2 separate regions of the Homo sapiens genome follow, and region 2 is linked to region 1. A link means that fine-mapping ties the variant in region 1 to the expression of a gene that starts in the linked region. Tissue or cell type: cerebellar hemisphere. Region 1 holds a variant in brackets; the other region holds the start of a gene. All regions are shown on one strand. Distances are from middle to middle.

The links. PIP is the estimated chance that this variant, and not a neighbour inherited with it, causes the effect.
Region 2: ATP8B4 starts here. The variant in region 1 is fine-mapped to the expression of ATP8B4 in cerebellar hemisphere (GTEx, PIP above 0.99). The same link has a PIP of 0.9 or more in cerebellum.

What each region holds. Positions count from the first base shown.
Region 1 is chr15:50,174,727-50,179,994 of GRCh38, reverse strand. It overlaps a transcript of ATP8B4 not described here. Among named protein-coding and RNA genes, the nearest start is that of SLC27A2, 4.8 kb to the left of the region's middle. The variant T/G (reference allele first, on the strand shown) is at 3,233.
Region 2 is chr15:50,116,558-50,121,557 of GRCh38, reverse strand. It overlaps ATP8B4 (ATPase phospholipid transporting 8B4 (putative)), which reads left to right and starts at 2,325. Exons shown (of 28, transcript NM_024837.4): 1 at 2,325-2,435. RefSeq lists an enhancer at 4,608-5,000.

The sequences.
Region 1 (5,268 bases):
GTAATTTTCAAATGTCTATAATATATACCTTGGGAGTCCCAGTGATTCCAGCTTTGAGCCTGGGATCCAGCTCTTGCTTTATCACGAGGTTAATAGATGTCTTAGTCTGTTTGGGCTGCTATAACAAAATACTGTAAGCTGGGTAGTTTATAAACAACAGAAATTTATTTCTCAGACTTCTGGAGGCAAGTCTAAGATCAAGGTGCCAGCAGATGTGGTGTTTGGTGAAGGGCTACTTTCTCACAGATGGTGCCTTCTCACTGTGTACTGTTTGGTAGAAGGGACAAATTACCTCTCTGGGGCCTGTTTTATGAGGGCACTAATCCCATTCATGAGGGCTCTGCCCTATGATCAAATTACTCCCCAAAGGCTCTACCTCCTAATACCATCACATTGAGGGTTAGGATTTCAATATATGAATTTTGTAGGGGACATGAACATTAAAACCACAGCAATAGTCTTCCTGGAAATATTGCTGCCATCTTATATCTCCACTGCTCAATTATCTTTAGTGGTTCCCCATTGCTTCCTATTGTCTTCCACCAATGACATCTATAGACAGTTGTACTTGTACAGCATACTAGAACATACCTGGCCTAGAGTTGACCAGATGCCCTGGCTTCTGCCTGACTCCTTTGAAAGGTGATCGATAGCTTAGCACGTTGGCTGCCCATTCTTGGTACATCTCTTGGGAACCTCTGGTCTATAAAATGAAATTTAAACTTTATTTTCTGGCTCTTCTGAATCTCACTCAAGCTTTCACTACACTCAATTGACAAATATTTATTGAGTTTCTGCTATGAACCAAACATTATTAGGTATTAAATATTTTAAAATGGACCAAAACTTAATTCTAACTGTTCCTTTTCAAGCGCACTTTGTTTTTAGCAAGTCTGGTCTGCACACTCCTAAAAATGCCCTGCACCTTCCTCTTTCTACTGGCTTGTTCTTACCACTTTCCACCCCTGACCATCCTAACCCTGTAAATCTCAACTCTCCTTTAGGGCAGTAGTTGTTTGATTCCTGAATTTCTTAGTCCCGTGTTATATTTCGAAACCAAGTTAGGGACTCAAAATAAGTAACGACTTCTTAATTTTTCTAGTAAGAACAACCCCCTCCCCCATCACAGTATATTTGTTATTTTATAGAAGAATGACATTTTTGGCACTAAAAAAGTATACCTGAACTGTACACTTAAAAATGGTTAAAATAGTTAATTTTTATGTTATGCATATTTTACCACAATTTTAAAGACAGTAACAATAAACATATAGCCCTTTCCAAGAAAAGACGAAGACAATGTTACACCAACACATAAAAAGTACAGAAATTATCCAAGTGTGGGGGCATGCACCTGTAATTCCAGCTACTCGGGAGACTGAGGCAGGAGGATCACTTGAGGCCAGGAGTTCAAGACTGGACTGGGCAACACAGTGAGACCCCATCTCATATGAAAAACAAAACAAAATAATCTTACAAATTCTCACAAACAGATAAAAATAAAAACATTAAAAATATTTTTGAATGTAGAAAACTGCAACTTTTGTCTGGGTTTTTATACCATATAGAAATTGTTTTTATACAAGTTTGTCTATTCAGTAACATAAATTCCACAGGGAAATATGAAATAGAGCCAGATCTTGGACTTTGATGTAATTTAGGATTTTGTCAGCACTGAGATCTCAGACATGGAGATTCTCCGTCCCCATAGGCTTAGTTAAGCCTCCTCATTCCACTTCTCCCATTCTCTGACATTACTGAGCCTATTCATTTCCTCTATCAAGATTTCGGTCCCTTCCTGGCCAGTCACTTCAACGTGGCCTCCTAGACCCCTCTTTTCCTTAAACTTTCTATCCAGGTATAGATGACCTCAAATGCCCACTGTCTTCTGTCCTATTCTAGGTATTGCAGGAGAAGTTTAGGGGCAAGACAGGATTACTGGGTGTGCATACTGACACCTTCTAGCCTTGGTCAGGACGTTCATCCCTATCATCTATCTCTGCTATTTGAGAGAAGGCTTCCTATTGGCAGTCCCAGACCTTCCCTACCCCCTTCAAAGTTTCCAATCCCAATCTCAAATGTTCTTTTAAAGCAGGTGGCGTCCCTTCCTACTTTATGGAGATGAAGTAGTTCACTATTTCTCAAACTTTACAAGTCTGAGAATCACCTGGGGAACATGCTAAAATATAGTTTATTAAGCCCCATCTCCAAAATTTCTGATTCAAAGAATTCACATCTCTAAGAAGTTACCAGGTATTGCTGACACTGCTAGTCCAGGGACTATACTTTGAGAACTACTGATTTAGTCCATTGGCTTCCAAACTACTCGGTAGAGCCCTAGTGGCTGAGAAGTTACTGAGGAGAGTTCATTGCATAGAGTGGGAAAGGGGCTCTGGGAGGATCCTACCCTAGCTCCAATCAAAACAGCTCATATACTTGTTTTACACTTCCATGTAGAGTTCATGTGAAAAAAAGTATTCCCAAACATTTTCCTTTAAATCTTCCAGCCCATGCTGATCCAGCCCTTGTACTGAACTTATAAACCCATCGCATAGGTGGGCTTTTGATTGTTTCTTACCTGTTAGTTTTGCCTTCGTAACTAGAATTCAATTTCCTGGAATGAAGTAATAGAAAAGATTGTGAGACTTGAAGCCAGAAGACCTGATTTTGAGTCTTTATCTGTCATGCATTGGCTGAGTAGCTTTGAGAAGTGTACTGAGCTCTCACAGTGACTTGTGTTAATTTTGTAGAATTTGAGGCACCTAATGCACAGGGCCATTCTTGACAAAAAAGTATAGATTATGAAGCTTGCAATTTTTGTGACATTACATACTTGGTACAAATAGAAATTTTGTGTGACTGACTCATTCAGTGGTTTGTGGGAAGAATAATCTCTGACTGTTGTTGCCATAAGTTAATCACATTTCTTGAAATGTGGGTGCCTGTCATCCTATTGACTGTCTAGCATGGTACCATTTGAGTATAGGCATACAGGATGTGCAGGTATTCAGCCAACAAAATGGCAAGGGTTTGATGGAGGTGGTATGTGATAAGATTGACCCTCTTTTTGGAGAATGAAAAAAAGGTGAGACTGAGAACAACTGATTATTGATATTAGACATGACAGAGCAGGAAACCCTTGCATTGGCATCCCAGTTGTGCTTGCTACACAGTCAGGACAATTTATAATTTGAGAAAAAGATGTTTGCCCTCTTTAGTTCTGACCAGAATG[T/G]CTTTGATTAGGTGTTGAATTCTAACTCAGGGAAAACTCCTGATGAAATCATCATTGTTTCTAGTGCTAATATGTGTGCTAATTCTCCAGATTTGGTTTGTATTTTTTCAACAGCTTTCTCTCTCTTCTTTCAATATCCCACTGCAACACACATACTCTCCATCCCAGTCACAATGTACTCTTTTTTGGATTTTATTATTTATTTTGTTTTTTATTTTTTAATTTAATTTAAAAAATATTTTATTTTTCCATAAGTTATTGGGGTACAGGTGGTATCTGGTTACATGAGCAAGTTCTTTAATGGTGATTTGTGAGATTTTGGTGCACCCATGACCTGAGCAGTATACACTGCACCAGATTTGTAGTCTTTTATCCCTTGCCCTCCTTCTACTCTTCCCAAGTCCCCAAAGTCCATTGTATTATTCTTATGCCTTTGCATCCTCACAGCTTAGCTCCCACATGTCAGTGAGAACATACGATGTTTGGCTTTCCAATTCTGAGTTGCATCACTTAGAATAATAGTCTCTAATCTCATTCAGGTCACTGCAAATGCTGTTAATTCATTCCTTTTTATGGTTGTGTAGTATTCCATTGTGTGTGTATATATACACAATGTTTATATATAGTGTATATATATATGCTGTGCAGTATATATATATACACACTATATATATACTCTGTGGTATATATATATATATACTCTGCGGTATATATATACACTCTCTCTATACTATGATATATATATACTGCGATACATATGTACACACTATATATATCACAGTATCTTTAACCACTCATTGATTGATGGGCATTTGGCTTGGTTCCATGATTTTGCAATTGTAAATTGTGCTGCTATAAACATGCGTGTGCAAGTATCTTTTTTGAGTAATGACTTCTTTTCCTTTGGGTAGATACCCAGCAGTGGGATTGCTGGATCAAATCGTAGTTCTACTTTTAGTTCTTTAAGGGATCGCCACACTGTTTTCCATAGTGGCTGTACTAGTTTACATTCCCACTAGCAGTGTAGAAGAGTTTCTTGTTTACCACATCCATGCCAACATCTACGGTTTTTTGATTTTTTAATTATGGCCATTCTTGCAGGAGTGAGGTGGTATCACATTGAAGTTTTGATTTGTATTTCCTTGATCATTAGTGATGTTGAGCATTTTTTAATATGCTTGTTGACCATTTGTATGTCTTCCTTTGAGAATTGTCTATTCATGTCCTTAGCCCCCTTGTCGATAGGATTGTTTGTTGTTTTCTTACTGATTAGATTCGTTGGTTAGTTTCTTCGTTTCTTACTGATTAGATTTGTTAGTTTCTTACTGGTTAGAGTTCGTTGTAGATTCTGGATATTAGTCCTTTGTCAGATGTATAGGTTGTAAAGATTTTCTCCCACTCTATGGATTGTCTATTTACTCTGCTGTTCCTTTTGCTTTGCAAAAGCTCTTTAGTTTAATCAGATCCCAGCTATTTATCTTTGTTTTTATTGCATTTGGTTTTGGGTTTTTGTTCATGAAATCCTTGCATAAGCCAATGTCTAGAGGGTTTTTCCAATGTTATGTTCTAGAATTTTTATAGTTTCAGGACTTAGGTTTAAGTCCTTAATCCATCTAGAGTTGATTTTTGCATAAGGTGAGAGATGAGGATCCAGTTTCATTCTTCTACATGTGGCTAGCCAATTGTCACAGGCACCATTTGTTGAAAAGGGTATCCTTTCCCCACTTTATGTTTTTGTTTGCTTTGTCAAAGATGAGTTGGCTGTAAATATTTGGGTTTATTTCTGGGTTATCTATTCTGTTCCATGAATCTATGTGCCTATTTTTATACCAGTACCATGCTGTTTTGGTGACTATAGCCTTATAGTATTGTTTGAAATCAGGTAGTGTGATGCCTCCAGATTTGTTCTTTTTGTTTAATCTTGCTTTGGCTATGTGGGCTCTTTTTTGGTTCCATATAAATTTTAGAATTGTTTTTTTTCTAATTCTGTGAAGATTGGTGGTATTCTGATGGGGATTGTCTTGAATTTGTAGATT
Region 2 (5,000 bases), 58 kb after region 1:
TTTCTACTCCTTATGAAGAAAAAGTAGAAATTTTTGAAAAAGTTGTGCTAGGTATACATAACATGACATTTATCATTTTAACTACCTTTAAGTGTACAGTTCAGTGGCTTTAAGTACATTCACAGTGTTGTATAACTATCACCATTATCCATCTCCAGGACTTTTCCATCATCCCAATCTGAAACCCTGTACCCATTAAACAATACCTTCCCATACTCTCTTCCTGCAGCCCTTGGTAGCCTCTACTCTTTCTGTCTCTGTGAATTCACCTATTCTTCTTGCTGAGCCTTGCTGTTATCATTATTCATTCGACATTATTCATTATTCATGAGTGCTTATTATGGACACCAGGAGTTCAACAGTAAACAAAAGTCCCTGCTCTCAAGGAGCTTTTATTTTAGTGGGAGGGAGACAATAAACAGCGAGCACATTTAAAATATTTTTTAAAAATGAGATTATCTTATACACAATTCTTCTGCAACTTGATCTTTTCACTTGACAGTACATCTTGGACATCTTTTTCTATGTCAGTCTGAAGAGGCCTATCTCTTATTTATAATAGCTAAATTTATTGAGTCTCTACTTTGCTCCAGGCACTGTTTTAGTTGCAACAATCCTATGAGGTAAGTTCTATAATGATCATCTTTTTACAGATGGCCCAGATAAGTGTAGGAGCTTGCATAGTCACCTGGCCAGTCACTGGTGGAGACAGAACTAAACTCAGATGACCTGATTCCTTACTCCAATTCTACCCTCTTTTGAATGGCTACATAGTACTCTTTTGTATCAATATACCTTAACTTATTTAGGCAGTCTCTTATATGTAAGCCATTTTTAGGTGTTTTTTTGTTGTTGCTATCATAGTGCTATAATTAACATATTTAGAGATATGTTTGCACGTGTGTGTGGTTTTCTATAAGGTAAATTCCTAAGAAATAAAAACACATACACATTTCAATACTTGATAGGCACTACTATACTCAGTTTCCTTTAAAAAATATTTTACCAATTTATATTCCCACTAACAGTATAGGAAAAGGAAAAGGCCCTGATTTCCTTATATCTTCTTTAACAAAGGGAATTACCAAACTTATATTTGCCCCATATGATAGGTTTAAAAATGGTATAGAGGTGATACTTAAAAATGTTTTTCACTTAAAAGTGTTTTTTATTTTAAATATTTTAAAGAGATGATTGCTTCCTGCTCTAAGCTGTTCTTGGTCCTCTTTTATCATGTAAGAAAGAAAGCCATCTCTCTTATTTCCAGAAATCTGTAGTTTCTTGTTACTGTGGAACCTTGGTAGGAAAAGGCCCTTGTTTCTGTGAAAACCTGAGGGCCCAGCGTGAGGATGTTCCAGGAGAGTGGAGTTGATGGTGCGCAGGGGATTAGCTTGCTCTGGTTATAGAGACATGATTAAAATCTATTTGATTTCAGTACTTAACTGGCAAATCTGATGCAACTTCTGGAAAATTCCTAGATGGCTTTAGGCATATTTAAAAGAAGCCATATTTTTCCTTTTAAAAATAGATATGCACCAAAATATTTTATTTTCATCTAATCCCGCTTTAACAACCAGAATCCCCTTAAAAGCAATTCCAAACTAAAAGATGTAAATCCATTTCCTATGTGCATTTGTTCTTTGGTACCATCAGGGTTAATGTTTGCATCCTCTGTGCTGAAATTAAGGATGTTGGGAAAGAAGTGTCATTGCTTTGCCTACTAAATGTCACTTGAGTATGCTTAGCTTTCATCCATAAGAGAGCTGAACTTCCCCTGTAAAAAAAAAAAAAAAAAAAAAAAAAAAGTGACAAAAACCCACTGCTGATTCTTTCATCTCTGCAAAAGCAGGTGGGAACTGCAAACAGATTTGCTTATCTTCCTCAGTCAAGGGCTGGTAAAAGTTTGGTAAGTAGGCCTGGTAGCCGGTGTCCCCTTCCATTGTTCATTTTCATCCTCCTGAATTCTTGATTCCCACAGAGGAAGCCATCCTCAGAAGCCAGCCTCTTGGGAGTTTCCTTTTGTTTCCCCAAGATTAACCAGTTCTGTCCTGTCAGCAGGAGCAGGCAACTAGGGGAGGAGAGGCTCTTCAGGGCTTTCAGCATTTTTCCAAGGAGTGCTTTTCTCCCTCAATTCCTCACTGACAGTGAAGCTGCTTTCTTGTAAGGTCTTCCTCTTCTTCTGATGAGATGCTGATTCTGATTGCCATCTAGCAGCTTCCGGTGGTGGTAAGTGGTCAAGAGTGTTTTTCCAGGAGTTGATCTCAGGTTTTTGAGAATGCCCCCTAGAGACCCAGTTTGTTTTCTGTATCATCCCTCAAGCTTTCAGAGTAGCCTTGCTTTTCTCCTTGGCATGGTCACGGAATGGATACCTGTTTGATCTTCCTGCACTGCTGAGAAATCTTCCTTTTGGGGGAGAGGATTAAGTCTGGGTTGAGGTGAGTAGATGGGTAGCATTCAATGGTTAGTGAGATGAAGTGGAAATTTAGCTGTGGGCTGGTTGGAACGATCTGTTTCTTTTCTCCAGATCCCTATTTTGTTTTGCTGTTTTCATCTTGGTGACTAAGGTTTCACAAATATTCTTTATTATTCCCCTTTTGCTAAAAAATAAATTTGGGGGAGTTAGTTGGAAATGGGAGATGTGACATTTTCTTTTTTGTTGTTTGAAATGTCTATTTTTTACTCTGTTAGCATGCCTATTAAATGACCAATGATAGTAGCATAAAGGTACATTTCTTCTTGGTTTGTAGGTCTTTGTCACTTCCTTTGGTAGTAGTTGGTTTTATTTTTTTCACGGGGTTTGTATACAGTGCACCTATTCAATATATTGTTTATGGTCAATTTATGCTTTAGACATGAACAGTTTGCACTGAGCTATCCCTCTGAGGTTTGAGGGTTATGTTTTTAGTGCTAAAATTTGTCTGAACAGAAAAAGGTATCCTTCTAGTTGTTTTGTTTATAGGCAAGAGAGTGTCTCAGGTCCCTGGTTAACAATTAGCTGTTTTGAAGAAAAGAAAACTGGTGAAAAACATTAATTGGAAGCTGAAGTCTTGTTAGAAAGTAAATGAGGAAACACAGGTTTTCTTGTGGGATTACCAACACCTGTGCCCATGAAGTATCCCCTTTTACTCAGCTGTTGCTCCATGCTGGCCTTTACTACAAAATGTAAACTCAGAGTGATTTCAGTTTTGATTTTTTTAAATGTATTTTTTATTTTTTATGTGATATGTAATAACTGCACATATTTATGGGGTACATGTGATATTTTGGTATATGCATACGATGTGTAATTAGCATATATATCACCTCAAACATTTACCATTTCTTTGTGTTGGGAACATTCCAAATCTGCTAGCTATTTTGAGATACAATAAATTATCATTATCTATATCGTTTATTTTATCGTTTATATCTATATCGTTTATTATAAATAAAAAATAAATTATCATTATCTATTGTCATACTACCGTGTTATCAAATACTAGAACCTGTTCCTTCTATCTGACTGTATGTTTGTACCCATTAACCAGCCTACCTTCACCCCCTTCTTCCTCTTCCCCTTCCTAACCTCTGGTAACCACCATTCTCCCTCTCTACCTTCATGAGATCAACTTTTTTAGCTCCCACATATGACAGAGGATATGTGATATTTGTCTTTCTGTGCCTGGCTTATTTTGCTTAACATAATATCCTCCAGTTCCATCCATGTTGCTGCAAATGATAGAGTTTTATTCTTTTTCATGGCTGAATAATATTCCATTGTATATAAATACCACATTTAAAAATTTTATTCCTCAAGAAGAAATATTATTGCTTCCATATCTTGGCTATTGTGAATAGTGCTGCAATAAACAGGGGAGTACAGATATCTCTTCAAGGTACTTATTTCCTTTCTTTTGGATGTATTCCCAGAAGTGGGATTGCTGGATCATATGGTGGATCTGTTTTCACTTTTTTTGAGAAACCACAGAGTGATTTATTTTAACCTATATTGTGCCTTTATATTGTCTCATCATGCAGAAATATTTAAAAATGAGGGAACAAATGATTTTTTTTGTGCCCCTGGAGGATTTTTTTGTGGGTGGGAGAATTTTATTTTTTTCATATGTGGCATATTGAATATTTTCATTTAGTAGGAAAAGAGTTAACTAACCATCTAAAAGTAAATTGGAAATTGTAGCTGTCATTGAAATTAAACTTAATGTATGTTTGGCCAGATGCAGTGGCTCATGCCTGTAATCCCAGCACTTTGGGAGGCTGAGGCAAGTGGATTACTTGAGGTCAGGAGTTCGAGACTACCCTGGCCAACATGATGAAACGCCCTCTCTACTAAAAATACAAAAATTTACCAGGCATGGTGGTGGGCTCCTGTAATCTCAACTACTCAGGAGGCTGAGGCAGGAGAATCGCCTGAACCGTGTGGTGGAGGTTGCAGTGAGCCGAGATCAGGCCACTACACTCCAGCCTGGGTGACAGAGCGAGACTCTGTCTCCACAAAAAAATAAATAAATAAAAAATAAAAAACAAAACTTAATGTGTGTAATCTAAATTCTTGTATAGCATGAGTAAGAATTAGAAACAAGTATTTATTTTTAGAATCTCTCATGAAAAGATATTAAAAAATAGTAACCTCCTAGCAACATTATATATTTCAAATATTAATAAATTCTAATTAAATATTAAATATTATTGATCATTATGTTTTTGGAAACATGTTCCTTCCTTACTTTAAAGCTACCTTGCTTTTCTCTCTCCTTTTATTTACTCAACTGGAGTTTGAGTACCTACCCAGTGCCGGGCACTGTACTAGATGCCTAGGGGAAAAGGTCACAGAGGGAGGGCCACAGCATTTCATTTCAATGGATCCTTCACTGACCTTTCTTTTGAAGTTGAGCGCCCTCTAGAGCTCTGTCCTTGTTCCTCGTCCTCTGTCCTTTCCTCACCTCTCTTTGTTCTTGTCCTTTCTGGGTGAGGTCATTCATTCCCCCTTGACTTCACTCCTT